2 separate regions of the Homo sapiens genome follow, and region 1 is linked to region 2. A link means that fine-mapping ties the variant in region 2 to the expression of a gene that starts in the linked region. Tissue or cell type: whole blood. Region 2 holds a variant in brackets; the other region holds the start of a gene. All regions are shown on one strand. Distances are from middle to middle.

The links. PIP is the estimated chance that this variant, and not a neighbour inherited with it, causes the effect.
Region 1: it holds the start of LAMA2, and the variant in region 2 is fine-mapped to the expression of LAMA2 in whole blood (TOPMed, PIP above 0.99). The same link has a PIP of 0.9 or more in blood mononuclear cells.

What each region holds. Positions count from the first base shown.
Region 1 is chr6:128,881,643-128,884,261 of GRCh38, reverse strand. It overlaps LAMA2 (laminin subunit alpha 2), which reads right to left and starts at 1,124. Exons shown (of 65, transcript NM_000426.4): 1 at 905-1,124. The coding sequence starts at 1,016.
Region 2 is chr6:129,280,254-129,282,753 of GRCh38, reverse strand. The region is part of intron 18 of LAMA2 (laminin subunit alpha 2); the gene reads right to left. Among named protein-coding and RNA genes, the nearest start is that of LAMA2, 400 kb to the right of the region's middle. The variant T/C (reference allele first, on the strand shown) is at 1,501.

The sequences.
Region 1 (2,619 bases), 400 kb after region 2:
AAGTATGTCTTACAATGCTGCACATGTGCTTCCTGTAAAATTCATGATAATAAAATAACTCTTCAAAGACTCCCCAAAGTTTCAGAAATGAGAGCTATATATACATAAACACTAAGAGGCTCTGAGGAGAATAAGTTATTTAAGTTACATTAAATACAGCCATCTTCCAAAGTCCTCCAAAGTGTATATCTAGTCACTGTGGCCTTAAAGTACACATGACATAGAAGTCTCCTCTGTATTTAAGCAAAAGGAGAAATTTCACGATTTCACTACAATAAAATAGGATATGAAGATAAGATGTGGGTTTGAAAAAGGTGAGGCTGGAGGCGCCATTGCCATGAAAGAAAAAAAACCACATAACTTCTTTAGAAATCCTGTTTTAAAAGTTGAAAACAAAGTTCTGTAAAACTTTATATATATATATATGTGTGTGTGTGTGTGTGTGTGTGTGTGTGTGTGTATATATATATATATAATTTTTTTTTGATGCATCAGCTACCCTCCATAAAGTCCCAGGATGAACCACACAGCTTGGGAAGCCTTTCTCTGCAGGATGGGCTCTGATTTGAAGAAATTCTTTTTTTTCCAATTGGAAAAAGTTTTCCTCTTGGAAAGATTTCAGAAATCAATTTACGGGATGTATCGTGATAGCAAGACCTCTTCGAAACTAAAGAACAATGAAAAGCACTCCCCGTTCCTTTTGCAGGACTTAGGTAATTCCCCCTACACTACGCTCTCATGGCATTGAACTTGAACTTGCTTCAAGTTCCTCTTGCCCCAGAGCGCACTCTCTGAAGGCGAAGCAAGACGGCAGTCCACAGACAGCAACTCTCGGAAGAGTGGAAGAAGTGAGGAATCTCGGTCCCGGCAAAGGATGCAACCCAAGCCCATGCCTCGACTGTACCTCTTTGCTGATGTGCCTGTGACTGCCGCTGCTGCTGCGGCCGCTGCGCCTGTACGCCCCCGAGGCCTCCGGAGAGCAGCAGAAGGAGGAGGACCCCGGCGGCTCCCGGCATCGTAGTGGCCGCGACCGGATCCACTTCTCGGGAGCCAGAGGAGTCGCTGCCGCCCTGTCCCCTGGCCTTGGCTTGTGAGCTGAGCGAGCAGCAGCTGCTGGGGAAGAGGAGGAGACAGCCCCCTCTGGCTTTGGCCGGGCCGCCGCCTGAGGGTGGGGGAGAAAGAGGACACTCCTCCACTCTCGCCTTCCATGGGCACGCGGCCCCAGGACGGCCCTCTATTAAAGGATCCTCCTTTCCTAGAGCGCTCCTTCCCTCTGAGACCGGATCATTCCTAGCTTGACCTGGTATCTGAACTTCTTTTAAATTAAAGAAAGTAATTGACATGAAAGCACTTTGAAATCTGTAAAATCCCTACACATGGAAAACATTATTTCTGGGAAATGCAAACAGCTAGGAACTTTTACCTCTTGAGAAAGGCCTGGCAAAACTGTGTGCAGCCACTGTGTACCTAGAAGATCCAAGACATCCCCAAGGCCAGAGTGTCTGAGAAGTTACTAGCCGAGGGAAGGTGCCCTCTGGGGACACTGCAGGCTGGGGAACTTACTGCTAGGTAGGCTGCTGGGAGGGCAGTAAAGGAAGTGCAAAATAAAACAGCCACCCTGGCGTCCCTGAAATGTTCCTGACCAAACTAATGGTTAGAATGAAGGCTTTCAGTTCAGTTAGGAGACATTTACTTAAAGGTAATAAAGGCCTTTGCAATAGTTTCCTTCCAGACTCACAATTTCATCTCTTCCAGTCCTGGTTTCTCCTCTTTCTCCTCTTTAACTCAACAGAACTACTGCCATTCCTAGTTTTTGTTGTTTTTTCATTTGTTTTTTATGGCCTAGGTCAGTGGTTCTCATAAGGTTTAAAACAACTCCATAATGGATTTTGTGAGTCGCAGGATGTCTTTTGGTTTACTCCGGGAACGGTGGGTACTGCAGGCATTAGTGTACTGTTGGGTCAGGGTGTGAGCTGTCCCTCAGTGGTCAGGACAGTCCTACAACATATTTTGTCCTTAGACTTCTGAATGGGCCACTGGTCATTTATGTAGTGAGTAAACAAACAAACAAAACAACAAAACCTTGCCTTATATTTGAAACCTAATTTAAGTTTGTTTCCACATCAAATTTTTGTGTGTGTTTTTTGTTTGTTTGTTTGTTTTTTTCTAGGATGCATCTACTATATACATTGAGAAGATAATTTACTTTGTGTTTTTGGATTTTACACCCATTTGTCAATGGGTGTAAAGATGTACTTTCAGAGAAGCACATCACTGATAACAACCTTGCCCATGGTACTTGAGTCACCAGCACAATATCAACATCCCATCGATTACACTGGGGTCATCTAAGAATAGGTGCAAACTTTTATTTTATTTTGCCTCCTAAGGAAGTTTTACCCAAGCATTTATATGTTGAAATACATATTGTCTTATATAGATAGTTTTCTTTTTTATAGTTAAGATGTATTGATTTATCTAAATATTATATTAAAGTTGAATTTTCTTTCAGTAAAATTAAGAGAGTATTGCTTTGAAGAGAATTGATTGAAAATCACTAGCCAAAGCCCATTCTTTAATATTATTCATGTCTTTTAGTTCTGTTAATATTATACCAGA
Region 2 (2,500 bases):
TTAGCATGGAATGAAAGAAGCTGAATGATTCCTGTGCCTCTAAGAATGGAATGAAAGTAGTTGAGAGACTTTCTAGACCTGAAAGGAAAGGTAATTAGGAGGACGGAGAAAAAGGGATAGGTCAGCAGAAACATGCTTGGGTGAAATACTCAGTACTGGCTGGCCCTATCACATGTCCCCTTGCTCAACATATACACACAGACATTATACCCTCCCCTCTACCCTTGCATATAAGGCCTTTGGTACTAGGTAAGCTTAATAGAACTTTGATTCTAGCTGGGAGAGAGGAGAAGAAAACAACTTGAAATGGGCTCAGATTATGTTTCTAAGACCTCACAGTTCCCACATATAGAGAAAGGGGTCTCAAAATAGAAATTAAATTGTGATAAAGACTATAAAGTTATAACTCTTGTCCCACCTGAGCTGTAGTCTGAGATATATTCTTGCTATATAGTTAAAGCAGAGGGTTTATGGCCACATAAGTTTAGGAAATGCTGAGCTAAACAAATTGAACAGATTTCTTAATTACACACTGTAGGACATGCCAGAACTTTTAACATGCAAATGGATGCTTCCCAAACTCATGTGATCACAGAATTCTTTATTCCAGGAACATCTACAATTTGGGAAATGTTGATTTAGTTTTTAAATTCTGGTCTTATTTAGATGATGTGCATAAGCTGATCACACAAATCACTTACAGAATGGTTTTGATTACAAGATTTTTAATGCAACCAGTATCTCCTCCTTACCCTGACCCTTATCTTCCCTCTCTTCTACTTCAACAGGCACATCTCAAACAAAAAATGTTTCCCTCATATTTTAGATCTATCTAAGGTGTTCTTTTGGCTTACATAAATACAATGAAATTATAAATCTTAAATATTCCTGGAAAACCCTAATCTAAATTCTGGCTAGAAAAATATGGTATCAACTGTGGAAAAACTTGAGCTGGAGATAAAATATGCCATTCATTACACTGCATATGCATGTTGCCATCTTCTGAATCAGATTAATACAGATTTTAGACAGGAAATCATACTTTCTGTCAGGTATTTCTCTCCTTGGTGATTTTTACTATTCAAATGGAATTCTCCCAAGAATACAAGCAACCATCCTCACTTGCATTAAAGAAAGATGTGAGGTGCTGAGGGCAAGGATGGGAAAATGCATCTATTTATATCCAATGTCTAGCCTTGTACCCAGCACATGGTAGTTGCTAAACAGATGTTTGTTAAATAAAATGTAGGGTTTTAAATTATAGATGGTTCAGAAACTATTGTCTAACATGTATAGGGAGTATAGTACATAAAGCAAAGCAATATAAGTACATCAGAGATTATGCTCACCTAGATAAGTGGATTTAATAGCCTTGTATGACAGAGCAGCTGTCATTTTCCAGTTGCTAAAAAAAGGTTGCCTGTAGTGAACTGGGGGGTTTAGGCACTTGATGTAAATCTGTCTTGGCAATGATATGTTCTCCTATTATAGTAAGTAATA[T/C]GCACATGCCTTTCTTTAAACACACACACAGACACACACACACAATTAAAGATATCTAGTTTCTTGATTGCAAATAAATGCTGCTTGTTTCATTTTTTTTTCTTTCATTCCTAATTTACAGATGCTTCCATACTCACAAATAGTACTTGTTGCTGCTAGGAACTGTCATTGGCACTTTGTCCACAGACTGCTAGTTGCTAGCTAAATTCTCTCTGGGTGATAGGCTCCTGCTTCATTAATTTTATGCATCCTGGTTGAAACAGGGGTGATAGCTGCCAAGATGACAGGAAAAGACGGGCAGAAACAGCCCTCTTCAGGGTTAGCCTCAGTGATGATGAGTGAAAGTAGGTCACTTCCTTTGCACCCCTCCCTCCCAGGAAGGGTGGCAGCAGGGACTATTTCCAGTGCTGAAACCAGAGGGAGGTTTTTGTTTTTGGCAATGATGTCAAGGGGGAAGTTTGTATCACTTTTATGCTGAGGCTGAATATATAGAAGAATTATTTCTTCAAAAACATTTCAGAAGGAAATATAATCACACAAATTACATAAAATAATACTCTTGTTTCTGCTGCAAAGCAACCCAGTAAAATCAACAGGAATTAAAATACTGGTTTAGGAGCAATTAGAAGAGGATATAAATCATGATAATAAATTACATTTTGTTTCTATTTTCAAGTATATTTAAAGTAAATTATGAACCACTTGCTGAACTATGAACTATGCATTTAAGCTACATTTTAAGGACAAAAAGCTAATTATGAAAAATAAATGGTGCCTACACAGACAGTAAGATAAATCTTAAAGTGCATGACTTTCCACTTGAGCAATGCTTTCTACAAAGATTGTAGGTTAATACTTAACCTTTAAGATTAAAACATTAATCAGATATTCTCTGAGTGAATGAAGATTTATGAAGCAATTTCTGAAAAATAAATAAATTACAAAAATATAATGCATTTGTTTGACAAGTGCGTTGAGAAACTTTATTTCACCTCATTGA